Linked DNA regions of Homo sapiens. The protein of the gene in region 3 interacts with the protein of the main gene of each other region in a pairwise test. Each region holds a gene or a part of one and is shown on either strand. Other genes may lie near its edges.

Region 1 (3,522 bases), on a different chromosome or scaffold from region 3:
TTCCCAGGTTCAAGCAATTCTCCTGCCTCAGTCTCTCGAGCAGCTGGGATTACAGGCACCTGCCACCACGCCCAGCGAATTTTGTATTTTTAGTAGAGATGGGGTTTCTCCATATTGGTCAGGCTGGTCTCTAACTCCCAACCTCAGGTGATCTGCCCGCCTCAGCCTCCCAAAGTCCTGGGATTACAGGTGTGAGCCATCACGCCCAGCCTTTCTTTGCCTGTTATTTTAAACTTTGAGTTTCAAGATGGGTACAGTGGCATGCACTTATAGTCTCAGCTACTCAGGAGGCTGAGGTGGGAGGATCACTTGAGGCCAGAAGTTCAAGGCTATATAGTGTGCTGATTGCACCTGTGACTAGCCACTGCACACTATAGCCTGGGCAACACAGTGAGACTCCATCTCTTAAAAAATAAGTAAATTAGTTAAAAATAAAATTTGAATTTTATTTAAGCTGGGTATGGGCATGCAAGACTATATTAATTTGTAATTATGATTGGAAACTGGGCATATTTCCAAATTATGTATTTGGAAATTACTGTTTAATGTAGAGGGGAGAAATAAAATTTATAGCATTTGGGAACTCAGGCATTTTGGATTAAACATGTATAATCAATGTGAGAACAGTGAATGTGTTTACCACTCTCAGAAACCCTGACTTGTAGCTTTGGCACAGTATTCAGGGTGGTGATAATGAAATTGTTATCATTAGATAAAGCCACACATCTTCTACTGGAGGAACAGTTCCTCATTGGCCCCGCATGGATGTTCTCTCCTCAGTGTATTTTCACAGAATGTACTGTGCATGTTATAAACAGGGTGTATAATAGATGAGCATTTGTTTACCAGTTCTTTCCTCAAGATATCATTTGAGGACTTGATCATGGAACATAGACAAATTGTTGTTGTGAAACAATTTTTTTTGTTTTGTCAGTAATTTTGTTTATAAGCAAAAATTTTTATGTAAGACTCATTATTCATAAATTCTTTTGAATTTTTTTTTTTTTTTTTTTTTTTTTTTTTTTTTTTGTGACAGAGTCTTGCTGTGTCGCCCAGGCTGAAGTGCAGTGGCGTGATCTCAGCTCACTGCAAGCTCCGCCTCCCGGGTTCACACCATTCTCCTGCCTCAGTCTCCCAAGTAGCTGGGACTAAAGGCGCCTGCCGCCACGCCCAGCTAATTTTTTGTATTTTTTAGTAGAGATGGGGTTTCACCATGTTAGCCAGGATGGTCTCGATCTCCTGACCTCGTGATCTGCCCGCCTCAGCCTCCCAAAGTGCTGAGATTACAGGTGTGAGCCACCACGCCCGGCCGATTCTTTTGAATTTCTATAAATTCCCTGAATTAAACCCACCTCTAGTAGGCTAAATAAAAATGAATGCTTTTAAAGCACTCTGATATCTTTGGTAAAACAATTCTGACACAAAAATTAAAATTTCAATTATATTTTGCTGAGTCTTTCTAGGTTGCTGTTGATGTAAGCAGTGGCCAGGCTGAGAGCTTAGCAGTTAAAATTCACAACATCTTGTATCCCTATCGTTTCACCAAAGGAATGATTCATTCAATGCAGGTAAAAGATTAACTTCAAAATCTCATAAATATATATATATATATATATATATATATATATATATGGCCTAACTCTTCTAAAATTTGATTTATTTAATGATATAGACCACCTTGGTCAAGGCACGTGTGTGTGTGTGTGTGTGTGTGTGTGTTCTTACTAGAACTTTTATCATCAGAAGAAAAAGCAAGGGATTAATTATAATTACAAAGAAAGAAATATCTTTAGTAGTGTAAGTAGGTTTGGAGGGAATGAATTATGGATTCAGGCTGACAGTTTCAAGGATTCTCAAGGTTCTCCTGCAGAAGATTATATATTGACTTTATATTTGGCAATAATTTATAAATCAAAGTCCTTTAGTGACCTTGTCCTTAAGTGTGCAACAGTGCCCTTTTAGAAATTACCTTCTATTGTGTGAGCCTACACAGGTTTGGGAAAGCCCATATTGAGAAGTCATTTCACAAAAGGGACCCTTTGTCTGATCTGCTTTTCTATTTTGCCTTGTGTTTACCACCATGGCTGTCTTATTCCCTTTGTTTTCAGTACGGAAACAAATTAGGAGGCTAACAAATTTGGGTAAACTCCTAACCTGGCATTGACCTGGTACCAGAGCAGGCAAGCAGTTGATCCAGAAATAGACCCTGGGGCAGTGGTATAGGCTCGGGGGTATTGGAGAGCCTCAAGTACCTAGACAGAGAGGAACCACCAAGGTCTAAAGCCACCAGTGGCTTTTAACTTACTTCTTTAATAGACTAGCAGCCGGGCGCGCTGGCTCACGCCTGTAATCCCAGCACTTTGGGAGGCCGAGGTGGGTGGATCATGAGGTCAGGAGTTCGAGACCATCCTGGCTAACACGGTGAAACCCCGTCTCTACTAAAAATACAAAAAATTAGCTGGGCGTGGTGGCGGGCACCTGTACTCCCAGCTACTCGGGAGGCTGAGGCAGGAGAATGGCATGGAGGCAGGAGAATGGCATGAACCCAGGAGGCAGAGCTTGCAGTGAGCCGAGATCACACCATTGCACTCCAGCCTGGGTGACAAAGTGAGACTCCGTCTCAAAAAAAAAAAAATTAAAAATAAATAAAAATAAAAATAGACTAGTTTCTCCATAATCGTTTTCCTTGCTTTCATATAAATTTTAAAAATTTATTTCAGCCTGTATGTTAGCAATCTCTGGTCACATTACCTATTCTCAAGAGTCACTCTGTTGGGAACATCTCAGGCCTTCTCTAAAGTATTGCTAGCACACCACTCTGAGACGTGGGAGTCTGTCTTCCCCTGTCGCCTCCCTCCCCTTACATCTTCTGATCAACTCCACCTGCCCATTCTTTCATCCTTCCTAGTGACTTTTTCTGGTTCATCAGAACCTTACCCAGTCTCAAAGAAAGGAGTGTGATAAGGCAAACAACTCTAAATAAAATACAGTTCTGTATCTTTCTATGCAAATAAGCCTTTGTTAATTTTTATTTAGTGTTGTACCACTTATTTGAATGTCTGACAGGTTCTCCAGCAAGTAGATAACAAGTTTATTGCCTGTTTGATGAGCACTAAGACTGAAGAGAATGGCGAGGCAGGTAAGAATGGAGTTTAGCCTGAATGATTAACCAGCTGGTCTTCTTGTAACCTTTTTTTAATGATTATTTTTGGTATATAATATAGTTTCAATGATTTGGATGGATTAGGGAAAGCCAATCTAAAACTAAGAATATTATGAAGGCTGGGTGCGGTGGCTCACACCTGTAATCCCAACACTTTGGGAGGTGAGGCAGGTGGATGGCTTGAGGCCAGGAGTTCAGGACCAGCCTGAGCAACATGGCAAAACCCCGTCTCTACTAAAAATACAAAAATTAGCTGGGCATGGTGGTGTGCACCTGTAGTCCCAGCTACTCAGGAGGCTAAGGCACAAGAATCGCTTGAACTTGGGAGGCAGAGGATGTAGTGAGCCGAGATTGCGCTA
Region 2 (3,522 bases), on a different chromosome or scaffold from region 3:
CAGTTAGATCAGCTGGTGGGGCTATTTGGTCAAAAGGTCAAATTATTTTGCATAGATAATAGCAAATATTTGGATGCATAATCTCCAAAATCAGATAATCTCATGTTCCTGAGTAACATAGATACACAAGATGTGATAGCTTAGAAGGATCAGACAAGTAGCTCTGTTTGTCTAAATTCCATAGGATTTACAGATGGTTATTGTCATTTCTGGTAGCTTGAATTCCTGTTACATGATACACAGAATACCAAATTAGACCTTAATCCAGAGGTTCATTAATTTCACAGGCATTAAAGTATTTATGGGGCACAGATTTCTTGGGCATGATAATGGTGGGCTTTTCTTTCTTTCTTTCTTTCTTTTTTTGAGAGAGAGTCTTGCTCTGTCACCCAGACTGCAGTGCAGTGGTACAATCATAGCTCATCATAAACTCGGACTTGTGGGCTCAAGTCTCGGTCTCAGTCTCAGTCTCCAGGCATTGGAGTGCAGTGGTGTGATCTCGGCTCACTGTAACCTCCGCCTCCCGGGTTCAAGCAGTTCTTGTGCCTCAGCCTCCCGAGTGGTAGCTGGGATTACAGGCATGCGCCACCATGCCTGGCTAATTTTGTATTTTTAGTAGAGATGGGGTTTCGCCATGTTGCCCAGGCTGGTCTCAAACTTCTGACCTCAACTGATCCACCTGCGTTGGCCTCCCAAAATGCTGGGATTACAGGCATGAGCCACCACACCTGGCCTACAGTCCCCTATTCATTCTTGTTGAGTGGACACAACTGTGTGGCTGCAAGGGGCTTAGCTGAGATTTTTAGAGTCCGGTGGCCCACCACAGGCAGAACAGTGGGGGCACTCTTCCCTGGATGCAGGCAATAAGGGTGCCTTACTTATAGAGAAGGCAAAAATGACAACAAAAGCAACTTAAAGTCAGTTAGCTTTTTATTATCACTATTTGCCAGCAACTCTCAACAATGTTGGTGATAAAATACTCCTTCCCCAGAGACATTTTGTTGGTGAAATTCTAAATCGTTGCTACAGTTACAGTTGAGTTTTGATAATTTATATGTAAGCTTCAGATTAGTATACACATAATATTTACTCTTTAATAATAAGCATTTTATTCTACCTAGACATCGCCAGCCCCTGACAAATGTAATGTCTGCTTTACCATTTGTTTTGAGAGAAAGTTCACTGTGGTTCAAAATCTTGGCTGGGCAGAGTGGCTCACACCTATAATTGCAGCACTTTGGGAGGCCTACGTGGGAGGGTTGCTTGAGGCCAGGAGTTTGAGACCAGCTTGGGCAACATAGCAAGGCCCCATCTTTAAAAAAAAAAAATTAGCTCAGCATGGTCTCACATATGTGTAGGCCTAGCTACTCAGGAGGCTGAGGCAGGAGGATCACTTGAGCCCAGGAGTTCAAGGCTACAGTGAGCTAGGATCATGCCATTGCATTCCAGCCTGGGTGACAGAGTGAGATTCCGTTTCTAACGTTAAACACAAAATATTTTGCGTGCACTTTCAGCACAGTTTGTGTCCCCAGTCTCTGTGGAGCTACAGATTTCTGTGTTTAAACAGTAGAATCAAAATGAATGGTGACAACATATAGACTGCAAAGTAAACAAACAGCCTTGAATGGCTTCAGTTCTGCTGTTTTGTGTGACTGCTTGGAGACTATGAGACGGTGTGAACTACAGGCAGTAATATTTTTGTTTTCTAAGGGCAAATTTTAGCTCATACATGAACTGTTTTGCTGAATTTGAATAATATCTTTGGAGCTGAAATATTTTTTAATGTTTTAAAATTAATCAAAAGATGATAATTACATGACTTTTACTGAAAACAATATTGACATATGAGGAGGGGAGGATTAAAAAGTTATCTTCTCTAGAGTTACCTAAAAGCTATGAGGGCTGGGCATGGTGGCTCACTCCTGTAATCCCAGCACTTTGGGAGGCCAAGGCAGGTGGATCACCTGAGGTCAGGACTTCGAGACCAGCCTGACCAACGTGCTGAGACCCTGTCTCCATGTCTCTACTAAAAATACAAAAATGAGTTGGGTGTGGCGGCGGGCACCTGTAATCTCAGCTACTCAGGGTGCTCAGGCAAGAGAATCACTTGAACCTGGGAGGTGGAGGTTGCAGTGAGCTGAGATTATGCCACTGCCCTCCAACCTGGGCAATAGAGTAAGAATCTGTCTCAAAAAAAAAAAAAAGTTATTGGCCTCAAATATTCCAAAAATGTCATTACTACAGCGCATTTCTCTCTCCTTACGTTTTGCAGTTACTGGCCAACACCTTCCCAAGAACAAGCGTCCAAAAGAACCAGGAGAGAATAGAATCAAACCTACCAACAAGAAGGTGAAGCCCAAAATTCCTAAAATGAAGGACAGGGACTCAGCCAATTCAGCACCAAAGACGCAGTCTATCATGATGCAAGTGCTGGATAAAGGTCGCTTCCAGAAACCCGCCGCTACCCTGAGTCTGCTGGCGGGGCAAACTGTAGAGCTTCGATGTAAAGGGAGTAGAATTGGGTGGAGCTACCCTGCGTATCTGGACACCTTTAAGGATTCTCGCCTCAGGTAAGCATTTTTTTTTAAAACTGTGTAGGGTTGAGGATTTGTAATAGTTAACAAAATTCCTTCTTAACTATTATTACACATTGTTTCTGACATGTTCCATTTTACCCTAATAGATCATAAAAATAGAAGCTCAAAGGGCAAAAGTCACAGATTTTATTTCTTTACCCAGTTAATAACAATTGCAGGCCGGGTGCGGTGGCTCATGCCTGTAATCCCAGCACTTTGGGAGGCCGAGGTGGGCGGATCACGAGGTCAGGAGATCGAGGCTATCCTGGCTAACCCGGTGAAATCCCGTCTCTATTAAAAATACAGAAAATTAGCTGGGCGTGGTGGCAGGTGCCTGTAGTCCCAGCTACTCAGGAGGCTGAGGCAGGAGAATGGTGCGAACCTGGGAGGTGGAGCTTGCATTGAGCCGAGATAGTGCCAGTGCACTCCATCCAGCCTGGGTGACAGAGAGCGAGACTCCATCTCAAAAAAAAAAAAAAAAAAAATTGCAAATCCTACCAACATTTGCTGAAAGAGTGAAATTTTACAGGAAACCATGTGACAAAACCATATGACAATTTTCTATGAAAATGTATGATGTGTGGAATTTTATGGGAAACCAAAATGTTATAGAAAACTATTATGCATAGAGATGGATGTTTAAAAATTCATATTGTGTGGCCAGGTGCAGTGGCTCATGCCTGTAATCCCAGCCCTTTGGGAGGCCAAAGCAGGCAGATCACTTGAGGCCAGGAGTTGGAGATTAGCCTGGCCAACATGGTGAAACCCCGTCTCTACAAGAAATATAAATTAGCCAGATGTGGTAGCATGCACCTGCAATTCCAGTTACTCAGGCAGAGCTGAGGCAGAAGAGTCGCTTGAACCCGGGATGCAGAGGTTACAGTGAGCCGAGTTCGTACCACCGCACTCCAGCCTGGGTGACAGAGTGAAACTCCGTCTCAAAAAA
Region 3 (4,129 bases):
AAGGAGTGGTGAGGACCTTGAAATTGTTCCCATTGTTTTCTCTCTGGGCTTGGACATGGGCTGTACACTAATGTCCAGTTAATTTTAGAGTGGGTGTAGCTAAGAACTAAGTAAGTGTTCAAAAGCAACCAGTAAGCCTCATGTCTCCTTTACATATTGATCTTGTAGAAGGGGAAGAAGGGGGAAGGGAAGGGAATTAGTTGAATGAAAGTGGAATTGTGCTCCAGGTGTGTTGCATGCCTTTTTGAATCCTCAAAATAACCCTGGGGTGGATCCTCTTTAATTAGGTGGAAAGACACAGAGAGGCTAAGTAAATTATTCATGCTCACACAGCTAAAAAGAAGTGAGTGTGATAACAACCCAGTTGCAACTGAATCCAAACCCAGGTGTGTCTGAATCTTTGAACATTACATAACCCTGATCACCACAGGGTTGGGAGCGTTTATCACAGTTTTTAGGGTTGAACAGGAATTGAAGGGGTAAGGATTCCTATTTTTGTGGTTTCTAAGTAATCTATTAAATACAAAAGTATATGGTAGGGTACCTTGATAGATGGGTTCCCTACAAGTGATTAAATTTGTGGACTTTTTTTTTTTTTTTCTATTTTGGTCAAGACCAGTTGCCAGCTTCTTCCAAATAAAATAGCAGTAAATCTCCTTGAAACAGATCTTCCATGTCCTGAAAAAAGTTACCTGAGTGGTATCTCTTGGCTAAGCAAGTGTAGGGAGAGTATGTTTCATTGTTCTGCTGTTTTGAGAGCCTTAAGCATCTTATATGGGAAGTGGTTCTCTGTGAGAAAGAGGATTGGTATGGAGGCACAGATGCTGGGACAAGTCCTAGCCCTGCTCTTCTGAGGACAGTTCATGCTCTGAGAACTCACAATAGTATGTGGGACACCTCAGGGAGCTGGTAACATTTGGGGTACAGGCAGTGATGTATTTACTGGTAAACAAATTCTCCAAAACAAAACAAAAACAACTAAAAGCTTTTGTTCTTTTCTCACCATGGCTGATCTAAAGCTACCAACATGACATAAATGCGTGGGAAGAGACACATGCATTCTGGATCTCCCCTGGAACCACAGGCTCCGGCTCACCCAATGGTGGAGATCTGTTAGTGTGTGAGGACTTCTGCACTGAATGTTCCACTAGGGAAAAGGCTTCCTGGAATGAGAGAGCTCTCAGTTTCTCTTCTAGGCCTCAGATCTGATTTTCAAAATCAGCATAGCTGGTGTAGCTAGCATCCACCTCTGCTGTGGAGACACAATTGTCAGTCTCTGCATCTGTGAGCAACAGACATAATGCCACTTTGGCATCCTAGGGAGATTCCACTGCAGCCTGACTCTACTGCCTCTCCTCCGTAGGACAACTAACTAAATGTCTCATTGTCTCCACCTGGGGGTAGGGACCAGTGTCGGAGGTGAGAGCACTTTCTGGGAGAACACTTTGCTTGCCCTATTTAGCTGGAGGTCCCCTTCATTGAAATTAATGCTGGTGTGGGCTGCCAACCCTGGAAACCCACTGCTAATGAGGATGATGGCTGAGCTGGGCACTTAGTCCAGGCTTAGCATTTCCTATAAGAGCCCTGAAGCTAGTTTCTGTTCAGGAGCTGGAGCAACAAGTCAGGAGGAGGCCAAATGAACTCCTACCCCTCAAACATGCACAGCGATTTCTGGATGCATTGTGGGGAATGGGGCTGCAATCTGCCGAAGGAAAAGATGGGATTCTGTCCCCTAAGAAAAGTGATTACGAGATGCCCAGCAAAGACAAATATATTTGTCCCTGTTGCTACAATAGGAAGTTAACAATCTGGCAAGATATCTGAACACAAGCAAATGAAAACAGTTCACCTAACACCCATGCAAATTATAAATTTCCTCCCATATACAAAATGATGAGAAATAACAGCAAAAATGTATACTTTCTTATTTTTGAACTTTTAAAGTTCTAGTTTGGTCTTTGAATCAAAACAAAGTAAAAGATGTTTATAAAAGCCATTTCCTTTTCTTTCCCCACTATGCTCATTTGACTTGCTCTTCCCCCTATAGGGTACCCTGAGTCATTCAGAGAAGGAGAATTAATAGCACTGAGTTGGTGATGAAGCTCCTGTTAGGACATATGGCTTCACAAAAAGAAATACTTCCAGATAAGTCAGAGAGACAGTTGGACGTCTTGAGCAAATCTTGAAAGAGATAGGGAAGAAAGCAGAAGTTGTTGGGTGGTGCTTGTAAGAAAAAGGCTCATACGATGAGGACCAGCTTCTTGTGGATCTCCAGGTCTCTGACCACAGCACTGAATTCCTCAAAGGATATCTTCCCATCGCCATCCTTGTCCAGGATGATGATGGTTTTGTCGACCAGCTGCTGGAGCTGCCAGTCCGTCAGGTTGTTGCCCACCATCATCTTCAGCACCTGGAAGAGCTCCCCGTTGGAAATGTAGCCATCTTTATCCATGTCGTAAATGCTGAACGCAAACCTCAACTTCTGCTCCTCGTCGCCCTTGACGCTGAACTGGGAGGTCCCCAGGATGAATTCCTTGAAGTCCACTTCTCCATCACCGTCGGTGTCGAAGACGTCGATCACTCGCCGCACCAACGGGTTGTGGCGCAGCTCCGGCAGGGACATGAACTCCTCCACGCTCAGAGACCCTGATTTGTCCAAGTCCAACTTCTTAAACCTCCTGCCCAGCCTTTTAATTTCATCATTGTCAAAGTGGGAGCACATCTCCGCCGGGTAACTGGCCTCGTTTCCCATTGTGGACATCTGGCAACGGCCACGGCTCAAAGGGTCGGAGAGGGGAGCAGGGGCGGTGAGCTCGGGCGGGGCTCGTGCCCGGACGGTTGGGCCATGGGGTGGGGGTAGAGGGCTCCCGGGGGCCCTGGTCGAGCAAAAGGGCAGGGGAGCGGAGGGAGGGGCGGCAGGTCAGAGAGGGAGCGGAGAGAGGAGGGAAAGAAGGAGGGAAAAGGGGGCGGAAGGGGAGGTGGGTGCTGTCTGGGCAGGAGTATAGGGAGGAGAGAATGGAGCCTGGGGGTGCCCGGGAGAGGCAGAGGTGGAAAGCTGGGCTGCCCCTTCTCTTTTTCCTTCTCTCAAACTCCTTGTACCTTTCCATGATAACCCCAATTTCCCTGGCAATTATTTTATCTACTTATTTCTTTTTTTTTTTTCTCTGAGAAAGTAAACCCCAAAGGAGAAGGGATCGCACCTGTGTTATTCGCTGCAGTATCCCAGAAGCACAGTGCTTCACAGGCAATATGTGCTTAATAAATATACGCCGAATGACTGAACTGCAACCAAGGACACTGTATACTTGCTTTACAGACCTAGTGTAAGGATGAAACAAGGTGACACATCAAGGCATTGATATAGTATGTTTTCCACGATTCCCTGGGAGGGGAAGCCGGGATTGACATCCTTCTGTACCTTTTTCAGGACGTAGGATTCAGAGTGTTTGTAAGAGACCAGGCAGATACCGCGCAGAATTTCTTACATGGATCACCTACAGGCACTAACATATTCCCGAGGAATATAAACAATGCTGAATTCAGGGCGTTTTTCAAGATGACACAGGTCTCAAGAACACAACCTCTGTTACTCTGTTCCCTCTTATCCATCATCTCATGCCCGAGTCACATCTTTGTTGTTGGTGCCTGGCGGCTATTCTGCAGAATACCTTGGGGGAAGGTCTGCAATGTGCCCAAAGAAGCCTTTTGTGTGTGTTGAGAGTGACAGTCGCCTCTGGATGATCTCACTTTTCTCCTTTTGTTTCAACTAGATTTGTTCTTTCTGTTGAAGACTAATCTCACATGCTCCCTCTTATTCCTTCTTCCTTTCGGAGCGCATCAATTACTCCAAATGCATAAGAAACAAATGTGGTTCAAGAGCAAACAGTTCAAAGGGACTTGGGGGAACCTCAGGCCACTACATCAAACTGAAAGATGCAAACACTCCTTCGCTTTAAAAAATGTTGGCAAGTTCTGTGTTCTATAGTTCAGCCAAAATATCAGTCTAAAGATAACCATGCTGGAACTAGCAAAACTAAGCCACTGATCACCTTATCATTAAGTCTGGCCATTTTACTTTCCTCTATAAACAAATGATAATCCATGGATATGTTTTAAAGCTGATTATGGG
Region 4 (3,522 bases), on a different chromosome or scaffold from region 3:
CTGTGTGATATGCATCTGAAATGATTCTGCATCATGGCTGCTCCATGCTAAGCCGATCTCCGTCGTGCTGACCACTGTCACTCGGAAGTCAGAAACTGGAACAGGGGCTATGCAAAGAAAGTAAACAACTAGATTAAAAATATACTTCTCCAGGAGACAGGGATGCCCCACCTCAGAAAATACTGAGATGAAATGTACACTTAGGACACCTGATCCCTCTCTCTGTCTTCTTTGTATCATCACCTACAACATGAGCCCCTCAGAAACTGCTGTTTCTGGCCATGGAGAGAGCACTTGATCATGAGAGTGCAGAAGCTCTGTGCTTACATTGCACACAATCATTCACAGGAAATGAGAGGAGGCGTGAGCTCCTGTGGTCAAGGGCTCAGGCTCTGGAGGAGAACCTTGGCCACACTGGCTGCTTTATCTCGAATGCATTACTAGCCTCCCAGAGCCTCTGTTCAGGGAGGGACAGCAGAGAGAGACCAGTCTTGACCCCCAAAATCCATTCCCCCATTTTCCCTTCATCATACCCACCCAGATTTTTAGCCCTGTGTGTGCATACCTGTTGGAAACAAAGACCACATTTCCCAGCTCCCATGGAGCTAGATGTTGCAATGTGACTAAGTTTTGCTCAACGAAGCATGAGCAGAGGTACTGGGTGACTTCTAGGAAGTGTCCTTTAAGGGTGGGGCACAACCTTCTGCCCTTCCTCCTTCTTATACCTGTAGTGTGGATGCAATGACTGGAGCTCACGCTGCCTGGCTCTAGAACCAAAACCTCAGCGGTGGCTGCAGCTTCCTGATCCCAGGATCACAGCTCAGAACATAGACCCCTGGATCCCGCAACTACAGCAGAGACTTCCTGATTCCTCCCTCTGCTGTCTGTGACCAAGGTGGTGACTCTCCAGGGGGTCAGTTCTGCAGACTTAGTCCAGGAGTCATTTCTTGGGGCGAGGCCTAAAGCCTGCTCCTCAACTGTTATGAGCTGACTTGTGCTCCCTCACCCCCAAATGTGTATGTTTATGTCCTAACCCCCAAGACCTCAGAATGTGGCTGTCTTTGGAGACAGGGTCTTCAAAGAGGTAATTAAGTTAATGTGAGGTCATGAAGGTAGGCCCTAATCCAGCAAGACTGGTGTCCTTATAAAGGGAGATGAGGGCATAGGCACACGCAGACTAAGGACAACCATGTGAGGGAGAAGACAGTCATCTATAAGCCAAGAGGGAGGCCTCAGAAGAAACCACACCTGCCGTTGCCTTAATCTTTGACCTTCAGCCTCCAGAACTATGAGAAAGTCTATTTCTGTTCAAGCCACACAGCCTTTGGTACTTGTTCTGGTAGCCCTAGCAAACTAATACACCAGCTCTTCCAATGATTCTGCAAAACCTCAATTCCCAGGATAAATCCCTTTTGGTTAAAATAGCTCACAGTTTCTGTTTCATACAACTGAGCCTTGGATAACCTCTATCATCCCCATCCTGCCTAGCACTGGGCTTCTGTTACAGGAGAGAGAAATAAACCCCTGTCTTGTTTAAGCCACGGATACTTGGGTTTTGTTGTTGTTGTTTTTGGTGGTGTTATTCGTGGCTGAACCTAATCCTAACTAATAAATAGTAAAAGAGTAAAAGGTAAAGAAATGCAAGCATATTTCATTTTCCCAAAGATCCAGTCCAAAATACATCTATAAGAATGCTAAGGTGTGCTTCCTGCGAAGGAATGGACATTCTTGTGGGATAAGCCTGGGTCCAGAGCCACACACCCCTGAGTTCAAGTCCTGCTCTGCTACTCACTAGCTCTGTGGCTTTGGGCAAACTGTTCAGCCATCAGGGTGTCATTTCCTCATCTGTAAAAGGGGACCCCAATACCTACCTCGGAGGCCACTACAGTGTCTATAAATCTCATGGCACAGTGCAAAATGCAGTGCTGGTGTCACTACTATTGTTTAATAGTATATAATCAATATTATACCACTGTACTACTAGTGCACCATTACTGTTTTATTTTACATTATCGGACCTTCTTTGAAACCTAAAGCTTTTTATTTGCTGCATAAAATCTTATTTTTAAGGGACATTTAAACAAACAAAGATGAGATACAGCTGTGCCAGTGATTCGTTATAATGTCAGCACCCAAGACACAAGGGGATATGAATACCAGGTCATTTTTGTCTCCCTGTATCAATTCACTCTAGGTCTCCTCCACACTGGAAAGAGAGTTACAAGCGCAGGCTCCAGGTGAGAAATACCAGAGGCTTAATCTCACCTCTGCCACTTTCCAGCTGTGATACCTGTCTAGCACCTCTCTCAGCCTTGGCTTCCTATCTATAAAATAAGGCTACTTCCAACCACATCACAGGGCTGTTGTGAGCATACAATGTGCCAGTGCAAGGAAAGCATGTCACACGAAGCTTGGCGTGTGGTCAGCCAACAGTCACCATTACTACATCATGCATCCTGTGTCTGGGCCTGGCACGGAGCAGGACAGCAGGAAAGGGTGGTGAGAGCCAGGCATGAACTCACGGGTGTGCACTTGGAGGAAGCCCGGCGTGCCCTCGATGTCACCTAGGACAGGACACACTGTGATGTTGTAGAAGGTGCTGGAGCGGAGTCCGGGGATGACAGCGCGAGGCTCACTGACGTTGAGATTGGAAGAATCTGTCTCCCCCGCCACATGTATCTTGTAGGTATAGTTAGATGACGACTCGTTATCGCTGACTTTCCAGATCAGGGTCAGGCTTGTGGCACTGATGTTCACAGCGGTGACGTCAAAAACCTGAATAGCATCTGTGAGAACACAAGAGGAGTTCAAAATAACCAGAACGGCCAAGGCAGAGGGAGGGAGAGGTCATCAGGGCATGCTGTCAAGCCCAGCAAACTCTCCTGGGGGAGTGTTCCTTCCTCCTCTGCACCATCAACCGTGGCTAGGAAAGCATGACGGTCCCAGCCAAAGTCAGGCATCATTGGGCGGTGAAGAAACAACCTGGCCAATGGCACCTGCAGGGTTATTCTTTGTTCCTTTTTGTAAGTTGACTTTAGAGATTTGACCTAAATGATGACTTGGACTCTATGCATGTCTTACCCTAGGGCCAGGGGCACCCAGAAAAGTTGTCAAACACACATGATGCAAGAGCGAACACTGCGATCTATGTGATCGCCCGAGATCACAGAAGTCAGGACGAGGCAGGCCTGGGTTCCAGGGCTCACTCTGCTATGACACCCAGGTGGGCCACAGGAAAACCACTTGAGCTCAGCTTCCTCACCTATAAAACTGGAGAGCAATCCTAACCTCAAGAAAAGATAACCCGAGTGCCAGTTATTCACCACCTGCCCACTCCACCCTCCCGACATATCCACTGCCCTTCCCTCACCTGCTCTGGGCCCAGGAGGCTGACCTTGTGCAAGGCATCATGGGGGGTCTTGCCACATGGGCTGTGACCGGGTTCCACTATGAGCCAATGGGCAGGCCCCTGAAGGGCCACAGGAGAAAGGAGTCAGTGCCTTCCTCCATCACCTCCTGCTC
Region 5 (3,522 bases), on a different chromosome or scaffold from region 3:
GGTGCAGTGGCTCATGCCTGTGATCCTAGCACTTTGGGAGGCCGAGATGAGCGGATTGCCTGAGCTCAGGAGGTCGAGACCAGCCGGGCAACATGGCAAACCCCCACTTCTACTAAAAATACAAAAAATTAGCTGGGCCTGGTGGCGGGCACCTGTAGTCCCAGCTGCTCAGGAGGCTGAGGCATGAGAATTGCTTGAAACGGGGAGGCGGAGGTTGCAGTGAGCCACTGCACTCCAGCCTGGGCAATAGAGCAAGACTGTCTCCAAAAAAAAAAAAAAAGAAGAAAAAGAAAGGAACCTAGAAGTTACTGGGTTTGAGAGCCACCATGTTTTAATCGTGTGGACTTAGACAAGATCTGTGACCTCCCTGAGCCCCATTTCCTCATCTGTAAAATCTAGGTTAATCATAATATCTGTACCATAGGGTCGTTGGGAAGATGAAGTCATATATAGGAAGTGCCTAGCATAGTGCCTGGCCCGCAGTAGGCCTCGTTTGTGTAGCTGGAACTATGATTTGATATCAGTACTGTCTCTGTAAGGAAATAAGGTCCCAGCAGAGTACATTCTTTGGGGGTCCTCCAGGACAAATGAAAACCACAGAAACCCTAGGGTATAACTCTGGGCTTTAGGTCTGTAATGCCATTAGCTGGGTGCTACCAACATAAAAAGGTAATGTTGACCTTTATAGAACTGGCCTCCTGGGTCTTTTTAGTTTGACTAAAATCTGGAGTTTGTGAGGCTAAACCCCTCTCCAGCCCCATAGGCCTCTGGCTAGTAAATTTGGTTATAAACACCATTCAACCATTAAAGCCCAAATGAAGTCAAGTGACTATTTGATTACAGGTTTGATTAATGGAACCCAGACCTAAGACTAACTGTAACCATTCCGGATTCTTTAAATCTTGAAAGCATTTGAGAACTAAAACACTGTGGGTGTAAGTCATTTAAGTAATTGATACCCCCAATAGAGGGACCTTATATCCACTCATTTTAAAGTGTGCAGACTTTTTCTTAGTTATTTGTTTTCTTTTCTTCCCCATCAACAGAGAGAACTTTTCTGAACCTAGGCGCTCTGGGCTATCTTTATTTATTCTATAAACAGGCTACCACCTAAGGTATGAAGGCAAAATCGGGCTTATCAGGCAGGCAAAAATGCTTTCTATTCTGTTGCATCAACATTGTTAGGCAAACAGCAAGAACAGGATCAGGAAGATAAAGCCCTGAGGAGGTCTCACGGTTCCCAGGAATTTGTGTGAATTAAATGATCTGATCTTATGAAAATGTAGAATTGCAATTCGTAGGAAAAACTAGAAAACTGGTGATAGCAGATGGCAAACAGACACATTACAGGTTCATTTGAGGAAGACTAAGTGATGATCATCTGGGAGATGGCAGGAAAATTGGGGCCTTGAAGGGCTGTCATTCATAGTTGTACATACCGTTTAGTTCAGCATATTTAAAGTGTTTCTTTTTTCAACTGTTGCATTATTTCTCCATGAGGTTTTGGGTTTTTTTTTTTTTTGTAAGTATTTTATTTTCAACGAAACTAAATTTCCCTAATTTTAAATTGATATTGCTGTTTGGCAGAGGTGAAAGTATTGGTATCAAAATGACAATAGGATGGCTGTTGCAAAAAGAGTCTTACCTGAGTGCTTAATTTTGAACCCGGTAAGATTTGGATCCTTGAAGTTACAGTACGCAAATTCTTTAAATGATCATTTGCCGTGACTATAGCACACATTATATTGTCCTATAACAGGAAGCTGTTCTAAATATTGGATATTAAAGAGGGCTTCAATTTCCATTCTGTGCAAGGACTCTAAAATTTTAGACAGGCTGTCCAAGATTATGATTCATCGGAGATAACTAAAACTAATTTTTTAAATTTGAGTTTTGATTTCAAATACAAGACACTGTTTATTTTGCCAAAAACTCTACTTGGTTCTTTGTTGCTGTTTTGCTGTTTCTATTTCTATGAAAGGAGACATCACAAACTTTTCTTTTCTTTCTTTCTTTTTTTTTTTTTTTTTTTTGAGATGGAGTCTGGCTCTTTTGCCCAGGCTGGAGTGCAGTGGCACAATCTCAGCTCACTACAACCTTCACCTCCCAGGTTCAAGCGATTCTTCCTGCCACAGCCTCCCGAGTAGCTGGCATTACAGGCACCCACGACCATGCCCAGCTAATTTTTGCATTTTTAGTAGAGTTGGGGTTTCGCCATGTTGGACAGGCTGGTCTCAAACTCCTGACTTCAGGTGATCTGCCTGCCTCGGCCTCCCAAAGTGCTGGGATTACAGGCATGAGCCACCGTGCCGAGTCACAAACTTTTCTTTCTTGGCTCCATGTGCGGCAGTCCATAATGGCTCAACCTAAGAGTTATTGGAAGAATGATTTTTCTTAGTAAGAACAACTCATTGAGAGTTGAAGAATCAGAGAGACTTGACAGTATCATAGCTGTGTGCCATTTCACACTAAAATATAAAAATTAAAGTGAAAAACTTACAAAACATAAAGGTATTTATTTATTTATTTATTTATTTATTTATTTATTTATTTATTTATTTTGAGAAGGAGTCTCACTCTGTCGCCCAGGCTGGAGTGCAGTGGCGCTATCTTGGCTCACTGCAATCTCCGCCTCCCGGGTTCACGCCATTCTCCTGCCTCAGCCTCCTGAGTAGCTGGGACTACAGGCGCCCACCACCAGGCCCGGCTTGTTTTTTTGTATTTTTAGTAGAGACGGGGTTTCACCGTGTTAGCCAGGATGGTCTCGCTCTCCTGACCTCGTGATCCACCCGCCTAGGCCTCCCAAAGTGCTGGGATTACAGGCGTGAGCCACCACGCCCGGCCAAGGTATTTTTAAATGACTCACTTTTTAAATAAGTTTCTAATACTCCTCTAGGTATTAGGTATTACTGAGTTTCAAGAAACTCCTTAAATATATGAATTGTTTAAAAACAGGTGTTTATCCACTCATTAGAGAGTGGTTGCCTATCTTTGCTAACGTTATTTCTTTGCTCTATAGGCGTCTAAATACTTTAAACAAATGTGCGGTGATGAAGCTAGAAATTAGTCCTCATCGGAAACGAGTGAGTATACAAATTGCATAATAGAATGAGGGGGAAAAGGGGCAAACAAAAAAGTGAATGATGTGTTTTGTAATAGGTTTTGTTTCTCCAACTCTTAGTTTGTTGTTCCGTAAGCATCTACATCTTGAATGATATCGCCTAGACTTGATAGCCTTATGTAGTTGAAGCCAATAGTTGCAACTAGTCCATTACATTATTTTATCTATTGTTTTTGACCTGATCACATCAGCTATTATTTTGCCTAATTACTAACTCAATGCCTATTACATAATAAAGGGATCATGCTTAAGGAATCCCAGTGGATTTTTGCATTGCTCATAGAGGAAATAAACTGAGGTTTATTTCCAACTCTTCTGTCTTCCCAAATATAACAATAACTGTGCTTCAAAGCTGTAGAGATGAAAGCGAAGGCCGATTTGTGCAATATTGAAGAATAATA

Evidence for each region.
Region 1: the proteins of PPP3R2 (region 3) and MLH3 interact in a two-hybrid assay, tested with the Homo sapiens proteins (one large-scale study listed by BioGRID and IntAct).
Region 2: the proteins of PPP3R2 (region 3) and PDGFRL interact in a two-hybrid assay, tested with the Homo sapiens proteins (one large-scale study listed by BioGRID and IntAct).
Region 4: the proteins of PPP3R2 (region 3) and PTPRJ interact in a two-hybrid assay, tested with the Homo sapiens proteins (one large-scale study listed by BioGRID and IntAct).
Region 5: the proteins of PPP3R2 (region 3) and DLC1 interact in a two-hybrid assay, tested with the Homo sapiens proteins (one large-scale study listed by BioGRID and IntAct).

The regions. Positions count from the first base shown.
Region 1 is NC_000014.9:75,037,957-75,041,478, reverse strand, and holds part of MLH3 (DNA mismatch repair protein Mlh3), read left to right. Parts: intron 1-1,454; coding exon of another isoform or gene 1,455-1,463; coding exon 1,464-1,568; intron 1,569-3,066; coding exon 3,067-3,139; intron 3,140-3,522. UniProt on the Homo sapiens protein: Probably involved in the repair of mismatches in DNA.
Region 2 is NC_000008.11:17,587,196-17,590,717, forward strand, and holds part of PDGFRL (platelet-derived growth factor receptor-like protein precursor), read left to right. Parts: intron 1-2,272; coding exon 2,273-2,570; intron 2,571-3,522.
Region 3 is NC_000009.12:101,592,170-101,596,298, forward strand, and holds the start of PPP3R2 (calcineurin subunit B type 2), read right to left. Parts: upstream 2,801-4,129; 5' UTR 2,753-2,800; coding exon 2,240-2,752; 3' UTR 1-2,239. UniProt on the Homo sapiens protein: Regulatory subunit of calcineurin, a calcium-dependent, calmodulin stimulated protein phosphatase. Confers calcium sensitivity.
Region 4 is NC_000011.10:48,127,044-48,130,565, reverse strand, and holds part of PTPRJ (receptor-type tyrosine-protein phosphatase eta isoform 1 precursor), read right to left. Parts: intron 2,787-3,522; coding exon 2,523-2,786; intron 108-2,522; coding exon 1-107. UniProt on the Homo sapiens protein: Tyrosine phosphatase which dephosphorylates or contributes to the dephosphorylation of CTNND1, FLT3, PDGFRB, MET, KDR, LYN, SRC, MAPK1, MAPK3, EGFR, TJP1, OCLN, PIK3R1 and PIK3R2. Plays a role in cell adhesion, migration, proliferation and differentiation.
Region 5 is NC_000008.11:13,102,351-13,105,872, reverse strand, and holds part of DLC1 (rho GTPase-activating protein 7), read left to right. Parts: intron 1-3,019; coding exon 3,020-3,083; intron 3,084-3,522. UniProt on the Homo sapiens protein: Functions as a GTPase-activating protein for the small GTPases RHOA, RHOB, RHOC and CDC42, terminating their downstream signaling.